Regions from separate parts of the Homo sapiens genome. Here regions 2 and 3 are each linked to region 1. Evidence: fine-mapped expression QTL. A gene starts in region 1. Each other region holds a variant in brackets. All regions are shown on one strand. Distances are from middle to middle. Region 1 holds the start of MADCAM1-AS1 (MADCAM1 antisense RNA 1). Region 2 holds the start of LOC124904608 (a long non-coding RNA gene). Region 3 overlaps MADCAM1 (mucosal vascular addressin cell adhesion molecule 1).

Region 1 (5,514 bases):
CTTTTTACATACATTGATTCATGTCTCACGTCTCCCTAAAAATGCGTAAGACCAAGCTGTGCCCTGACCACCCTGGGCCCCTGTCGTCAGGACCTCCTGAGGCTTTGGCAAATAAACCTCCTAAAATGATACAAACGTGTCAGTTTTCTCAGTTGACACCCACTCCGTGGAGAGGAGAGGTCTGAGGGCTCCGGACAGCAGAGGGTTGACTGTGGGTCCTGCCCTGATGGCTCCATCTCCCTCATCCCACAGTCCGGGGCTGGAGAAGAAAGTGTTAGAAATGCTTGTTCCCCGGTGCCGTAAAGAAATAGCACTTGAATATAAATGTCATTTCCTCAGCAAGGCCACTGTTTTACTTTCTGCAGAAAGGGTACACTGGCCAGCAGTTTTGCCACGAGAGTATCCAGAACAAAGGAGACAGGGTCATTTATAACCTGACGCGTCCACCCTACTGCTCTGTCCGGTTTCCATTGGCTGGAACGGGACGGTTTCCATTGGCTGGAACGGGACCTCACATTCTGTATTTATCCCGATCGGCTAGCAGCTTGGAACTTTTAAAAAGAGGCAAAGGCAGAGGAGAACAAAGGAAGGAAGAAGTAGCTTGTGGAATGCTAAGAAAGGTAAAAACACCTTCAAATAAGGAAGAGGAACAGGTTATGACCTAATGCTTGCTTGGACCAGTATAAGCATGCCAGGGCAGATATTTAGCCTACATTGTGGGCACTAAGAACATAAAGTATGTTGATTTCCTTATTACATTATATATATTCAATATAACATTAACAATTAATTAACAAAGAATGTTAGCACAGGTCTTTTGTTTGTTTGTTTTTTGAGACAGAGTCTCGCTCTGTCGCCCAGGCTGGAGTGCAGTGGCGCGATCTCGGCTCACTTGCAAGCTCCGCCTCCCGGGTTCACGCCATTCTCCTGCCTCAGCCTCCCGAGTAGCTGGGACTACAGGCGCCCGCCACCACGCCTGGCTAATTTTTTGTATTTTTAGTAGAGACGGGGTTTCACCGTGTTAGCCGGGATGGTCTCGATCTCCTGACCTCGTGATCCGCCCGCCTCGGCCTCCCAAAGTGCTGGGATGACAGGCGTGAGCCACCGCGCCCGGCCTACCACAGGCCTTTGAATACATTTTGCTTCTAAGAGAAGTTACTATTTATTCCTAATTAGATGGGGAGGAAAGTCTCATTTGAAGAGGAACCTCTACTTCACGTTTTACAAAGGGCATTTGGTCTGCCCGCCAGAGATTCCTGTGCTGGGAGGATGGTGGAACGGTCCCCCGGCAAACAGCTCTCATTGCCCCCTGCCCGGGGCAACGCCCCTGAGGGACGGGGACGGCACCCAGCAAGCTCTGCCCGGGGCGGGGAAACGCGAGGGCTTAGTGGTTTCCTCGGTGAGAAGCTTAACCAGGAGTCCCCGAAAGCAGTGAGGGAAGATCCACAGAGGTCGCCTGGGGAAACACACCCAGAGGCGGCTTATGGAGGAGACTGCTTGTGTTTTGAGGTGGCTGCGGGCTGCGGAGGGTTGGGAGGGCCGGGAGGGCGGCCGGAAGCGAGGTCAGGCGATGAAGGCCTGGAGGTGCCAGCCCGGGGGCCCTGGAGAGCCATGGCAGAGTTTACAGCTCTGGAGGCTGCGGTGTCAGAAAGCTCCCTCTGGCGGTCAGGGGGTAACAGCGCGGGATGCTCGCCCGTGTGGCCGCCAATAGGGGCTCAGCGCAGCTGCAGCGGAGCTGGGGAGGGGGCTTCTCCCACGAGGTGAGCTACGCACTCAGACGTTGACTGAGTTAGGCGGAAGGCCAGGCTGAGCTCGACCCCCAGCACCAAGGCTCAGAGATGAACATGAGAAAAGGGTCTGGGGGCCGGGCGCGGGGCTGGGTCCAGCAGTCCTGGGCAGGTCCAGCCCCGCGCATGCTCCGTCAGGCTTCTCTGCTAACCAGGGAGACTGGTTGCTAGGAGACCATGCTAATGAAGGACTCGCTCACTACCCAAATGGCAAGCAATCCGGCTTTGTGCCAGAAACGAAGCACTTCCGAGGCAGCCATTTTGGAGTCTGGCAAAATTCAGGACCGAGGCCAAAGCCAGGAGAGCCAATCAATATACACAAAGAGGGAGGAGAAGAGAGAGTGCCAATAAGGACACAAGGAAAGTGGTAGCGTACCCTTGTCACTTCCCAAAGTCTCCCAGCGGGATACCGGTGCCCTCTGCCCTTAATCAAGATGGCCGCCTTGGGGGGGCTCTAGCGCACAGTGGAATATGGCGGTGCTTCCGGTCCCGCTGCCCTCAGCGAAGATGGCGGCAGTGGAGAAGCGGCGGCAAGCGGTACCACCGCCGGCCGGTTTCACGGACAGCGGCCGCCAGTCGGTATCCCGGGCGGCGGGGGCGGCCGAGAGCGAGGAGGACTTCCTGCGGCAGGTCGGCGTGACGGAAATGCTACGTGCGGCCCTGCTGAAGGTGCTGGAGGCGCGGCCCGAGGAGCCGATCGCCTTCCTGGCTCACTACTTCGAGAACATGGGCCTGCGCTCGCCTGTAAACGGCGGCGCCGGGGAGCCCCCGGGCCAGCTCCTGCTGCAGCAGCAGCGCCTGGGCCGCGCGCTATGGCACCTTCGCCTGGCCCACCACTCCCAGAGGTGCGCAGTGGGCCGGCTTGGGCGGGTGGGGCAGCGATGGACTTCAACTCCCAGCATGCCGCGCGCGGCTCCCTACCCGCAGCGCCGGCGCAGGGGCCCGGGGCTTGCTGGGAGTTGTAGTGCGCGATGCCTTCTTGGGTGGGATGGATCGGACAAGGTGGGCTGGAGGGTCCGGGCTTCGGTCCGGCGCTAGGCAGCGCGCTGCATGCGGCGCGAGTCCTTCTGGCCGGCTTCGCCTTCTGTGATGCCTTTTTGCAGGTGCTGAGTTTCCCCTTGCAGTTCATGATTTTCAAAATCGTGCAGCTCAAGAGGACTTGGCCCGAGGTCGCAGAGCCAGCCCCCGAGCCAGGTCCTCCTAGTCGCCTCCTTAGCAGCCTCATGTTATCCCCGTCCATTCAGCCAGAACGTGAATATTTACAGAGAGCAGCGCAGTCACCCAGGGCCCCCATCTTAGGGGACAGGCTCCCAGCGGGCAGGTGGGGATTCCTGGAAGAGCCTGGCGATGTGCGGGCGGGTTGCAGGGAAGAGGCCCAGCAGGTGCAAATTTAGACCCCGAGTGTGGGGCACACGGGAGGCGGGAAAGCCACGGAATTTGGCTGAAGCATGCGAGGCTGCAGGTGCCTACGCGCGGTGTCCCCTGGCTGGGGCCAGTTCTGAGCCCAGGGAAGGTGGTTGGGGACTATCTGTTGGCGTTGGGGATGGATGGGCTGATGTCTTTTGTTGGGGGGGGGGTCCCCAGAAGCGGAGCCTGAGGTAGGCATTGTGTGTGCAGGTGATTTTACAAGGGGGTGCGCCCAAGAGAACCCAGGAAGGGGGTGGGAAGAGCAGGCAGGGAAGGATGCCAAGCAAAGGTGCCCTTTCAGCCTCATAACCAGGGCATAAGCGCCCACCATGGCAGCCCTCGCCAGAGTCCCAGAGAAGTTCGGGGGGAGAAGAGAGATGGGGAGTGTCCCCCCTACCACGTTCAGGGTGCACAGGTGTCCAAGATCATACTCAGATAAGGGTGGCAGGGTGTTGGGTACCTGGACAAGGAGCAGACTTGCTCCGGTGGCCCAGTGGCTCTGAAGGCCCCGCCCGATGATTTGCTGGAGCCAGGTGGGAGGGGAGCGGGCAAGGGCAGGCCCAGAGGGTCAGTGGAGCCGTTTACTGCGATGGAAGGCCCCTGGTTTGAAGAAGCTGCCAGAGCCACTTGCGGATTAAGTTGGAGGCTGGGAGGAGCCTGGAGACAGGAAGGTAGAAAGAAGCGTCTGCAACTGACGTGGGGCCAGGACAGAAGACTGAACTGGAGGGGTCCTGAAGTCTTCAGGAGAGATGAGAAGAGCTCAGGACCCCACTCTGAGGGCACCTAGCCCAGAGAGCCCACCAGAGAGGGTGAGAACGTGAGACCAGAGGTGAACGGGGAGCAGGAGGAAGATGGCCTCCCAGGACATCCGGAAGAGAATCTCCCAAGGAGGAAAAGGGGTCAACAGCAGGCCCACCACGTATGGTTGTTCAGGTTGAGCACTGCACAAGCCACTCACCCCGTAGACACTGCAGATGAGGATATTTATATTTATATTAATTTCCGAGGGCTGCTGGAACAAATTACCTCCAACTTAGTGGCTTAAAACAACAGAAATTTATTCTCTCACAGTTCTGGAGGGCAGAAGTCTGAAATCGGAGTGTCAGGAGGACCACACTCCCTCTGGAGGCTCCAGGGAAGGAGCCTTCCTTGCCTCCCCAGCCTCCAGTGGCGGCCAGCAGTCTTTGGCTTGTGGCCACATTGCTGCAGTCTCTGCCTCCGTCGTCACGTGGCCTCCTGTGTGTCTCTGTTCTGTGTTCCCTCATAAGGACACCACTAGGCCCCACCCTACTCCAGTGTGACCTCAACCGCCTACATCTGCAAAGCTGCTGTCTCAAATAAGCTCTCAGTCTGAGGTTCTGGATGGGCGTGAGTTTGGTGGGCACCAGTCACCCCAGGACAGGAGTGGAGCCATTGGCTGGAAGAGTTCTCATAGCAGGGACTCAGGGCAAGGGTGGTGCTGGTGGCAGATGCATCCCGGCCCTGGGCTCGCCTGGGCTCCCCAGAGACACAGCCAGTGGGGAATGCAGAAGACAGGTGCACAGACCTGCGTGGCATCTGATTCTGTGCTCATGGAGCCAGGCCTGCTCCCGTCCTCCCAGCAGGCAGCTCCGGCCGCCCCTCCATCCTTGGACCGTCAGGAACCCCTGAGGTCACCTGACCAGTCAGGAAGAGAAGCCCAGAGCAGCCGGGCGCGGTGGCTCACGCCTGTCATCCCAGCACTTTGGGAGGCCGAGGCGGGCGGATCACAAGGTCAGGAGATCGAGACCATCCTGGCTAACACGGTGAAACCCCGTCTCTACTAAAAATACAAAAAATTAGCCGGGTGTGGTGGCGGGCGCCTGTAGTCCCAGCTACTCGGGAGGCTGAGGCAGGAGAATGGCATGAACCCAGGAGGCGGAGCTTGCATTGAGCCGAGATCGCGCCACTGCACTCCAGCCTGGGCGACAGAGCGAGACTCTGTCTCAAAAAAAAAAAAAGAGAAGCTCAGAGCCTGGCAGATTTGTCCCCACTCAGTCCAGTGTGTTGACCCCCAAAGGCTGAGGGGCTGACTGGGGCTGCTCCTGAGAGCATCACCGTGGTAGGCTGGGGGAGAAGTCACCCCAGATCCTCCCTGGCACCTTCTTTTGAGAAATGGCAAGCTCCGGCCGCCAGGGCTGGTGATGGCAGCCACAGTGTCCCCCTCCTGCCACCTTCCTGGTCGTCTCCAAGGCCCCCTGGAGCACACACACAGACGTTACATGACTTGCTGAAGGCCACACGGCCACCGAGGGCAGAGCTGGGGTCAGAGAGCCCCAGAGTGCAGCCCCGGAGGCCTCCT
Region 2 (5,621 bases), 20 kb before region 1:
GTTGTTTATGGAGGGTCATTGCCGTGCTCTACCACGTAACACACGTACACACACACACACAGGTGCACGTTTACACCACGTGGGTGCGCACGATGAGGCACACACAGGCAGGCGCGCACACACACGCGTGCTCACATAGGAACACGAAGAGGCAGGAGCCGGGCGTGCCCGAGCCCCGTGGCGCCCTGGGCATCCCAAACACCGCCTGCCCAGAACAGGTGCGCAGTGAGTGCCTGCTGAGCCAGTGAGTGGAATGAAGCTCTACAATAGTCCAGATGACAGACATGACTGCTGTGGCTGCTGCCGATCCAAGTCCCACCGTTCTTTTCTCTAGAGACAAGGTCTCACTCCACCATCCAGGCTGGCGCGATCACAGCTCACTGACGGTGGAGAAGGGTGATCAGAGAATGGTGGGAATGAGGCGGCCCTGACCTCCTGGGGTTAGCGATCCTCCCACCTCAGCCCCCTAAAGCACCGGGAGGGCAGGTGTGAGCCACGGTGCCAGCCCCAAGTTCCCGACATTCTTTCCTAAAACACATCCTCCGGCTGCAGATGAGGGTGCGACAGCTGGGAGGCAGCTCCCAGGAGGCCGGGTTCCTCCGATGACCTGCTGTTTCTGTGTCCCTGGCACACGGCACAGCAGGAGAGGGGGAGGCCAGGTGTTTGTGGCTGCTGCCACCGGCCCGTCCAGGGTCAGCTCATGCTCCCAGCCTCCGTGATCTGCCACTCCCCACTTCCCTGAGGCTGCTCACTGCTGTCCTTTGTCCGGCGGCCAGCCCCCTGACTCAGACTCACGCGCCCTGCTGCTGCCCGCCCCTTTGTTCCCGGGAGACTCTAACAAGGAAGGCTTGTTCTTCCCGCAAGGACACAGAGAACCTGCCAGCTCCCCTCCATCCTCATCCAGAGAGAGCCTGCTGTCCCCGTGGGACAGTGAGGACAGGACCAGCTCTCAGGCTCTGCTGGGCACCCAGCCCATGCCTGGCAAGTCCTCATGTTACAGACGAGGACACCGAAGCTCAGAGGAAGGAAGGGCTTGTATTCCGAGGATTTGGGGGGCTGGAGAGGGGTCCTAGTGGGCTCTGCTGTAGCCTGCAAGGTCCTACAAGCCCAGGTCCTTCCTGCCCTCTCTGGCTGCGTTGGTCCCTCCGGACTCAGCCTCTGCACTCACCGTACATTCTGCCTGATACACCCGGTCCAACTCCCTCCCCCTCCAGGAAGGCCTTGCTCAAATCTCTCCACCTCCAGGATCTTCCTTGGACCACTGATTGATTGATTGATTTTTTGTTTCTGTTGTTTTTCTGAGATGGAGTCTTGCTCTATCACCCAGGCTGGAGGGTAGTGGCGCAATCTCGGCTCACTGCAACCTCCGCCTGGTGGGTTCAGGCGATTCTCCTGCCTCAGCCTCCCAAGTAGCTGGGATTACAGGCGCCCGTCACCACACCCAGCTAATTTTTGTCTTTTTTAATAGAGATGGGGCCGGGAGCGGTGGCTCACGCCTGTAATCCCAGCACTTTGGGAGGCTGAGGCGAGCAGATCACGAGATCAGGAGATCGAGACCATCCTGGCTAATACAGTGAAACCCCGTCTCTACTAAAAATACAAAAAATTAGCCAGGCGTGGTGGCAGGCGCCTGTAGTCCCAGCTACACAGGAGGCTGAGGCAGAAGAATGACGTGAACCCGGGAGGCGGAGCTTGTAGTGAGCCGAGATTGTGCCAGTGCACTCCAGCCTGGGCGACAGAGCAAGACTCCATCTCAAAAAAAAGAAGGAAAGAAATAGAGATGGGGTTTCACCATGTTGGCCAGGCTGGTCTCAAACTCCTGACCTCAAGTGATCCGCCCACCTCAGCCTCCCAAAGTGCTGGGATTACAGGTGTGAACCGCCATGCCCGGCCTATCGGGACCACAGATTTGATCCTGCAACCTGCCTATCATCATGCTGCCTGCCCCCTTCCCTGCCTTTTCCTTCTTCCCAGCAGCACTCTCCACGCCTCACCTATTGCAGCGGCGGCTGGAGCTGCTCATGCCAGCTCCTGAGCCCACTGTGAAGTTCGCGGCGATCTGTGAGCTGGTTGGCTCATGTTGGCAGCCACGATGGGAGTATTTACAACACAGGGGGCGGCGTGCGCTGCAAGTGAGGGCCTTTTCCCTTGGAGAGCCAGCTGTTCAACATTTCTCCGCACAGCACCACTTCGGTATTATGCCCGAGGTTTATGGCATAACTAGCCTGGCTCATGGTCTCTCTTCCCTGCTGCTCACTAGAATGTAAGCTCCTTCGGGCCGAGGTCAGCCCACCTTGCACTCTGCTGTCTCCTTGGCACTTAAAACAACGCTTGGCATACAGCAGGCACTCAATAAAGATGTGCTGGCAGGGCGCATGACGTGTGCCTGTGGTCCCAACACTTTGGAAGGCCGAGGCGGGAGGATTGCTTGAGCTCAGGAGGCGGAGGTTGCAGTGAGTGGAGATCGCACCACTGCGCTCCAGCCTGGGCCACAGAGTGAGACCCTGTGTCAAAATAATAACAAGCATGAGGCAGGGGGGATCAGCTGAGGTCAGGAGTTCGAGACCAGCCTGGCCAACATGGTGAAACTCTATTAAGGGAGGAGACCATCCCTCATATTGTCTTATGCCCAATTTCTGCCTCCAAAGAAAGAAGTAAAAACTAAAAGGCAGAAATGAAATCCACAGGCAGACAGCCCGGCGCTGTGCCCTGGGCCTGGTAGTTAAAGAGCGACCCCTGACCTACTGGGTTACGTTATCTATAGATTCCAGACATTGTATGGAAAAGCACTGTGAAAACCCTTGTCCTGTTCTGTTCCGATCTGATTGCCGGTGCATGCAGCCCCCAGTCACGTACCCCCTGCTTGTTCAATCGATCACGACCCTCTCACGCGGACCCCCTGAGAGTTGTGAGCCCTGAAGAGGGACAGGAATTGCTCACTCGGGGAGCTCGGCTCTTGGGACAGGAGTCTTGCCGATGGCCCCGGCCGAATAAACCGCTTCCTTCTCTAACTGGGTGTCTGAGGAGTTTTGTCTGCGGCTCTTCCTGCTACACTATCTCTACTAAAAATACAAAAAAAAAAGGCCGGGCTTGGTGGCTGAAGCCTGTAATCCCAGCTCCTCGGGAGGCTGAGGCGGGCAGATCACGAGGTCAGGAGATCGAGACCATCCTGGCTAACACGGTGAAACCCCGTCTCTACTAAAAATACAAACAATTAGCCGGGCGTGGTGGCAGGCGCCTGTAGTCCCAGCTACTCGGGAGGCTGAGGCAGGAGAATGGCGTGAACCCGGGAGGCGGAGCTTGCGGTGAGCCGAGAT[G/C]GCGCCACTGCACTCCAGCCTGGGCGACAGAGCGAGACTCCGTCTCAAAAAAATAACAAGTAAATCAGTGTGGAACTAACGAGCGCCCTCGTCCCTCGCGCTGCTGGGACTGACGTCCGGGTACCCCCAACGCAACCACGGCCTCCCGGTGACCCTGACCCGCGAAGCGGGCCGGAAGCCCCGCAGCCCCTACTCCAGAATCCGCGTCCCGGAACCTGGATCCCCGACCGGGCCCTGCGGCCCCGACCCCCGCAGCGAGCCCAGCGCCGGGGAACAGGACCCGGCTTCCCAGTCTCCGCCCGGGGACACCAGGCTCCTTGGGCGAACGGCCAGGCCTCCCGGGACCAGCGCGCTGGAAGACTCGCGGCGGGGACGCCCCCTCGGCCGCCCCGTGCCGGGCCCCACGCAAGGGCAGCCGGGGCGCCCCGCAGTGGGAACGCGAGGAGACCGACCACGGGGCGAGACAGCCGCCAGGGCGTCCGCGCCGCCCGCCCCAAGCCCGCATCAGCCCGCCACGAACTCGGAGGACCGCGGGCTAGAGCGGCCCCGCCAGCGCGCAAAGCCTTGTGGGCCACACGCCCCGGCGCCCCGCGCTCCGCGGCATGGCGGGAGTTGTGGTTCAGCTGCGGGGGCCGCGCGGGAGCTGCCGGGAGCTGTGGGCGGGGTGGGTGCGCGCGCAGTGGCAGGGCCAGTGAGCTGCACCCGCGGAAAAGGAGGGGGAGCGGCTGGTCAGCTGCGCCCTGCGGGTCGAGAATGTCATCAGCAGGGATGGCGGCGCTTTGAGTGCTGAGCGCGGCCCCGACCGGGACCCCCTACCCTTGACCCACCCTCGCAGGCCGAGCCCCGACTCCCGACCCGCCGTCGCAGCCCGCGGCCCCGACCTCTGACCCGCCCTCGCAGCCCGCGGCCCCGACCTCTGACCCGCCCTCCCAGCCAGACCCTCTACGCCCGACCCGCCCTCGCAGCCCATGGCCCATCGGCCCGGCAGTGGACGCAGAGCCTCGGCCCCGTTCCCTCCCCGGACCCCCCGGACCCGCTCTCCGTCCTCCCTGCAGAGCCGAGGGCCTTGGCCCAGCCCCGCATCCTCCCCGACCGTGCTCGATCCAGCCCGGGTGTGCTGCACCCGAAACAGGCTCCCGGGGGCCGTCGGGCCTGTGGGTGACCGTGCAGGCCAGGATCTCCCCCTTCCCAGTCGTGACAACCACAGATGGCCCCAGATGCCACGTTAGGGTTAGTGCCTCCTGGGGGCGGGATTGCGGCCGGGGGAGAACCACCCTCCCAACCCGTTAGGAACTGCAGGGACGGAGAGCGCGCTCGGGATGTCCAGCACTCAGCGCGGGTTGGGTGGCGAATGGAGAGCGAGTCGTCCTCAGAGGCCGCCGGCCTGCAGGCGAGAACCCTCCCAGCCAGGAGGCTGCGGCTCTGCCTGAACCCCGACCCAGGGCGAACACCCACATTTGGCCCCTGCCCGGTGCTGAGAGAGGCCAGAGCGGCGTCCCCAGAAGCGGAGCGGGAGCCCCACGTCCGGCGGCCACGATAGAAAGAAGAAAAGAAATGGGTGGTAGTAAGTAAAATAAATCGTATGAAACATAAAACAAGGCCGGGCGCGTTGGCTCACGCCTGTAATCCCAGCACTGTGGGAGGCCGAGGCAGGTGGATCACCTGAGGTCAGGAGTTTGAGACCAGCCTGGCCAACATGGCAAAACCTCGTCTCTACTAAAAATACAAAAATTAGCCGGGCGTGGTGGCGCATGCCTGTGGTCCCACCTACTTGGAAGGCCGTCACAGTAGAATCACTTGAACCCGTGAGGTGGAGGTTGCAGTGAGCCGAGATAGCACCACTGTACTCCAGCCTGGGCGACAAGAGTGAAACTCCAGCTAAAAAAAAAAGAAAGAAAGAAACGTAAAACAAAGATGTATCTTTATCTTATTTAATCCACTGTGTCCAAAATACTATCCTTTCGATTCATAAGCAATACATGTTGAGATGCTGTACACTCTTTGTTCACGCTGAGCGTTCAGAGCCCAGTGTGTATTTTGCACATTTGTGTCCACTTCCTAATTCTCACAGGAAATATTCAACCTGCACTTCAGGCCACTAAAGTTCTAGTTGGAAAAGTGGCTTCACAAACCCTAGCTGTTGCACATGTTTTCCAATAGCTGCGTCCGTTTCTAAGTTGATATTCGTGTTAGAAAGGAGGCTTCAGGGCCAGGCGCGGTGGCTGACACCTGTAATCCAGCACTTTGGGAGCCCAAGGTGGGCAGATCACTTGAGGTGGGGAGTTCAAGACCAGCCTGACCAAC
Region 3 (5,621 bases), 8.4 kb before region 1:
GGAGAGAGGAGGGGCGCAGGAGAGAGGAGGGGGCTCAGGAGAGTGGAGGGGGCTCAGGAGAGAGGAGGGGCGCAGGAGAGAGGAGGGGGCGCGGGAGAGAGGAGGGGGCGCGGAGGGGAGGGGGCGCAGGAGAGAGGAGGGGGCGCAGGAGAGTGGAGGGGGCGCGGGAGAGAGGAGGGGGCGCGGGAGAGGGGAGGGGGCTCGGGGGAGAGGAAGGGGCGCGGTGAGCGGGGAGGGGACGCGGGAGAGAGGAGGGAGTTAGGAGGGGGCTCAGGAGAGGGGAGGGGGCTCAGTAGAGTGGGGGGGCTCAGGAGAGAGGAGGGACGCAGGAGAGAGGAGGGGCGCAGGGGAGAGGAGGGGGCGCAGGAGAGTGGAGGGGGCTCAGGAGAGAGAAGGGGCTCAGGAGAGAGAAGGGGCGCAGGAGAGAGGAGGGGCGCGGAGGGGAGGGGGCGCAGGAGAGAGCAGGGGGCGCAGTAAAGTGAAGAGGACTCAGGAGAGAGGAGGGGGCGCGGGAGAGGGGAGGGGGTTTGGAAGAGAAGGGGGGCTCGGGAGAGGGGAGGGGGCTCGGGAGAGGGGAGGGGGTTCGGAAGAGAAGGGGGGCCCGGGAGAGGGGAGGGGGCCCGGGGGAGAGGAAGGGGCGCGGTGAGCGGGGAGGGGACGCGGGAGAGAGGAGGGAGTTAAGAGGGGGCGCAGGAGAGAGGAGGGGCTCGGAGGGGGCGCGGGAGAGACGAGGGGTGCTCAGAGTTAAGGGGCTCCGAGATAGGGGGTGATTGGTGATCCTGCCAGAGGAGGGGGCTCGGAGGAGGCAGGGGCTGAGAGGGGAAGTTGCGGGGCTCCGCGCGGCCCCCTGACCCGCAGCGAAACTGGCTCCAGGCAGCTGGGGTTCGGGGGACTGGGGCAGAGGCGGCGGTCGGGGCGGGGTTCAGGGACCGAGCCTGGGAGTCCGGGTAGCGGCGGGGCAGGGGTCCGGGGGTGCAGCGGAGGGTCCGGGAACCGGGCAGAGGCGGGGCGGGGTCCGGGGGTGGAGCGGGACGCAGGGCCGGTGGCGGGGCGGGGTCCGGGACTCCGCGGGGCTGAGCGAGAGCCGCGGTCGCCGCAGGCCAGTCCCTCCAGGTGAAGCCCCTGCAGGTGGAGCCCCCGGAGCCGGTGGTGGCCGTGGCCTTGGGCGCCTCGCGCCAGCTCACCTGCCGCCTGGCCTGCGCGGACCGCGGGGCCTCGGTGCAGTGGCGGGGCCTGGACACCAGCCTGGGCGCGGTGCAGTCGGACACGGGCCGCAGCGTCCTCACCGTGCGCAACGCCTCGCTGTCGGCGGCCGGGACCCGCGTGTGCGTGGGCTCCTGCGGGGGCCGCACCTTCCAGCACACCGTGCAGCTCCTTGTGTACGGTGAGGCGTCCCCCCGCGCCCTGCCTCTCTGACCCTTGGACTCCCGGCTCCTTCCCTATGCCACCTCTTCCTGGAAGCCTCCCAGATTGCAGGCAGGGTCCCAGCTCCATGCACAGCTCCCCGAAGCCAGGTCCCCGGCCTTCGCTTCCCTCCAACTCACCCCAACTCTCCCAGGGCCGGCCCTGGCCCATCCTCCTGTCTATTCCAGCCTCCCAGGGTGGGGCCACGGGGCCTGCGCACAGGCCGTCCCTACTGCCTGTTCATCAGCAGCCCCCACGCATCCTTGGCCCCAGCTCCAAGCCCCTCCGGGCTCCGGCCCCTCCATCACGTCCAGCCCTGACTCTGGGCTCAGCCCTCACCCCCGACCCTCCATCACAGCCTTCCCGGACCAGCTGACCGTCTCCCCAGCAGCCCTGGTGCCTGGTGACCCGGAGGTGGCCTGTACGGCCCACAAAGTCACGCCCGTGGACCCCAACGCGCTCTCCTTCTCCCTGCTCGTCGGGGGCCAGGAACTGGAGGGGGCGCAAGCCCTGGGCCCGGAGGTGCAGGAGGAGGAGGAGGAGCCCCAGGGGGACGAGGACGTGCTGTTCAGGGTGACAGAGCGCTGGCGGCTGCCGCCCCTGGGGACCCCTGTCCCGCCCGCCCTCTACTGCCAGGCCACGATGAGGCTGCCTGGCTTGGAGCTCAGCCACCGCCAGGCCATCCCCGGTGAGTCCGCTGGGTGCCCTGGAGACCCACCCGCTCGCCAGCCTTGACAAGCACTTCGGGACGGGGTGGGGGGGTGGGGGGGCAGCACCTGTGCTGTGGGGCGCTGGGAGGACTGGATTCCCCCACGCAGCGACAGCGACATTCATCGACGCAACATGTATTTGCCGAGCACCTGCCCCCCAGCACAGGTCCCACCCCTCCCCTGCCCACAGCGCTCCATGGCTCTTGCCTTGGGGTCAAAGCCCAAGTCCTCCCGGGGGCCCACAGGAACCTGCACGACCTACCCTGTCCCCTTCCTGTCCTCCCTCCACCCTTTCTCCCCCTCCTCATTCTGCTGCAGCCACACGGGCCTCCTCGCCTCCTCGCTGTTCCTCCAACACACCAGGCGTGATCCTGCCCCGGGGCCTTTGCACGGCTGTGCCCTCTGCCGGGAATACCCTTCTTCCGGATCTTTCCACGGCTCTCTCCTCCTCCCCCTCAGGTCTCTGTAGAATGTTGCCTCCTCCGTGAGGCTTCCCTGGATTCCCGTTTAAAGGGTCAACCCCTGATCCCCAACGTGTACAAACATAGGCACACAAGCACACACATGTACAAACACAGACACACACACGCGTGCACACAGGCACACACGCACACGCGTGTACAAACAGGCACACAAGCACACACGGGAACAAACGCACACACCCACACGCGTGTACAAACACAGGCACACAGGCACACGCGTGTACAAACACGCACACGCGTGTGAGCCCCCTTTCCCTTCTGTTTCGTTTCTTGACACCTTGGATAACATCTGACATCCCCCAGTCCCGTACATTCTCTTTTCCATGACCTTCTCCCACTGTGGCTCCCCAGGTGGGAATCTTGTGTCGCGCACGGCTGTGTCCACAGAAGCTAGAACAGGGCCTGGGGCATAGCAGGTGCTCAATAAACCCTTGCTGAATGCTCGGATGAAGACATTTAATGTGGGCCGGTGCCCTGGCGGTGCTCCCTTCACGCTCTGTCCAATCCCGAAGCCCCTGCCGGCTTCTCCCACTAAAGAAAAAGGGATTTGTCCTCCCATGGGGCACCCTGATACCCATGTTAATGGACGTGAGGTCGTGAGTTTCAAGCAAAGGGCTCCCGGGGATAAAGCAGAAGCTGGGAGACCCG[G/A]GAGGTCTTTGTGGTGGGGGTGGGGCTGGGGTGGGCAGAGAGGAGGCTGGATTTGAGGGATATTTTACAGAACACGGGCCCTCACGGGCCTCAGTCTCCCCATCAGTCCCACAGGGGATGGAGCAGAAGGCCAGGGCAGAAAGCCCCCAAGCACCTTCTCTCTCCACGCCAGCCTCCTCCCAACTCTCCTCGTCCACAGCCCATCATAATAAACGCGGGACCCACTCGCTCTCAGGGCAGCCCAAAGAGGTGACTCTCACCCCTTTGACAGTTGAGGAAACTGAGGCACGTGGAGATTAAGGAGGCTGCTGGGGTGATGTTGCCAGTGAGTGGGGGACCTGGAATGCCCGGACTCCCATCCTGCCCACTGTGGTGCCTCAGCTTCCTCATCTGTCCAGTGGACTTCCCTGACTGTGGGTCCTTTGTAAATTTCAGGGACCATGTGGATTTCAAAGCACTTTATAAATTATAGGCTTTAGGCCGGGCTCACGCCTGTAATCCCAGCACTTTGGGAGGCTGAGGTGGGTGGATTACCTGAGGTCAGGAGTTCAAGACCAGCCTGGCCAACATAGTGAAACCCCATCTCTATTAAAAATACAAAAATTAGATGTGGCCAGGTGCGGTGGCTCATGCTTGTAATCCCAGCACTTTGGGAAGCTGAGGTGGGTGGATCACGAGATTAGGAGATCGAGACTAGCCTGACCAACATGGTGAAACCCCGTCCCCTACTAAAAATACAAATATTAGCCTGGCGTGGTGGTGAGCGCCTGTAATTCCAGCTACTCAGGAGGCTGAGGCGGGAGAATCGCTTGAACCCGGGAGGCGGAGGTTGCAGTGAGCCGAGATCGCACCATTGCACTCCAGCCTGGGCAACAGAACGAGACTCCATCTCAACAACAACAACAAATTCTAGGCTTTATCAACTAGAACAGTAAGCCGAATAGAAACAAAAATGTAGGCCAGCCATGGGAGGCTGAGGCGGGAGGATCACTTGAGTACAGGAGTTCCAGACCAGCTTGGGCAACATACGAGACCTCCCATCTCTACAAAAAAATTTAAAAATTAGCTGGGCGTGGTATTGCACACCTGTGGTCCCAGCTACTCAGGAGGCTGAGTGGGGAGGATGGCTTCAGCCTGGGAGGTTGAGGCTGCAGTGATCCATGATCACAACACTGCACTCCAGCCTGCACGACAGAGTGAGACCCCATCTCTAAAAAAAAAAACCAGGCCGGGCGTGGTGGCTCACGCCTGTAATCCCAGCACTTTGGGAGGCCGAGGTGGGTAGATCACCTGAGGTTGGGAGTTCAAGGCCAGCCTGACCAACATGGAGAAACCCCATCTCTACTAAAAATACAAAATTAGCCAGGTGTGGTGGCAAGCGCCTGTGATCCCAGCTACTCCAGAGGCTGAGGCAGGGGAATCGCTTGAACCTGAGGAGCGGAGGTTGTGGTGAGCCAAGATTGCGCCACTGCACTCCAGCCTGGGTAACAAGAGCAAAACTCTGTCTCAAAAAAAAAAAAAAAAAAAAAAAAAAAAAAAAGAATAAATGGAAATGTGACTCACCAGAGTGGTCCAGGGAAGGGGCTTGGAGGGGTTCTGGTCCAAGCCCTTCATCCAGATGCGGAGATTGAGGCAGGAGAGGCAAGCCTGGGGCAGCAGAGAGGAAAAAAAAACCCTCACTCTGTTTCCAGTCCTGCACAGCCCGACCTCCCCGGAGCCTCCCGACACCACCTCCCCGGAGTCTCCCGACACCACCTCCCCGGAGTCTCCCGACACCACCTCCCAGGAGCCTCCCGACACCACCTCCCCGGAGCCTCCCGACAAGACCTCCCCGGAGCCCGCCCCCCAGCAGGGCTCCACACACACCCCCAGGAGCCCAGGCTCCACCAGGACTCGCCGCCCTGAGATCTCCCAGGCTGGGCCCACGCAGGGAGAAGTGATCCCAACAGGCTGTGAGTTCTGGTCCCTGGGGGCAGGGAGGGTGGGAAGGGCTGAGAGCGAGAGGTTCCTTGGATGAAGACTTTAGACAAGAAATTGCCCTGCCCAGCCTTGGTTTCCCCGTCTGCCCAGCCTCAGTTTCCCCGTCTGCCCAGCCTCGGTTTCCCCATCTGCCCAGCCTCGGTTTCCCCGTCTTTCCAGCCTCGGTTTCCCCATCTGCCCAGCCTCAGTTTCCTTGTCTGTCCAGTGGGCTTCTCTTAACTGTGGGTCCTTTTTGTAAACATCAGGGACTGTGTAGATGTCAAGGCACTTGGTAAATTCTAAGCCTTGTAGACTAGAAGAATCTTTGGAATAGAAGCAGAAACAATGCGGCCACATAGGTAATTTCTTTCCTTTTTTTTTGTGAGACAGAGTCTCGCTCTGTCCCCCAGGCTGGAGT

The links.
Region 2: its variant is fine-mapped to the expression of MADCAM1-AS1 in skeletal muscle (GTEx, PIP above 0.99). The same link has a PIP of 0.9 or more in anterior cingulate cortex, atrial appendage, breast, caudate, cerebellar hemisphere and esophagus muscle.
Region 3: its variant is fine-mapped to the expression of MADCAM1-AS1 in stomach (GTEx, PIP 0.95).

The regions. Positions count from the first base shown.
Region 1 is chr19:505,213-510,726 of GRCh38, forward strand. It overlaps MADCAM1-AS1 (MADCAM1 antisense RNA 1), which reads right to left and starts at 2,677. Exons shown (of 3, transcript XR_936221.4): 1 at 2,164-2,677. TPGS1 (tubulin polyglutamylase complex subunit 1) reads left to right here and starts at 2,285. Exons shown (of 2, transcript NM_033513.3): 1 at 2,285-2,632. The coding sequence starts at 2,295. MADCAM1 (mucosal vascular addressin cell adhesion molecule 1) reads left to right here. Exons shown (of 5, transcript NM_130760.3): 5 at 1-131. RefSeq lists enhancers at 1,361-2,218, 2,091-2,430, 5,268-5,514 and silencers at 1,431-1,560, 5,417-5,514.
Region 2 is chr19:485,159-490,779 of GRCh38, forward strand. LOC124904608 (a long non-coding RNA gene) reads left to right here and starts at 4,008. Exons shown (of 2, transcript XR_007067072.1): 1 at 4,008-4,547; 2 at 4,708-4,912. It also overlaps a transcript of CIMAP1D not described here. RefSeq lists enhancers at 495-1,013, 4,319-4,820 and silencers at 3,648-4,277, 4,348-4,397. The variant G/C (reference allele first, on the strand shown) is at 3,318.
Region 3 is chr19:496,734-502,354 of GRCh38, forward strand. It overlaps MADCAM1 (mucosal vascular addressin cell adhesion molecule 1), which reads left to right. Exons shown (of 5, transcript NM_130760.3): 2 at 1,100-1,384; 3 at 1,763-2,092; 4 at 4,936-5,196. MADCAM1-AS1 (MADCAM1 antisense RNA 1) reads right to left here. Exons shown (of 3, transcript XR_936221.4): 2 at 4,808-4,891; 3 at 3,036-3,127. Among named protein-coding and RNA genes, the nearest start is that of MADCAM1, 3.1 kb to the left of the region's middle. The variant G/A (reference allele first, on the strand shown) is at 3,245.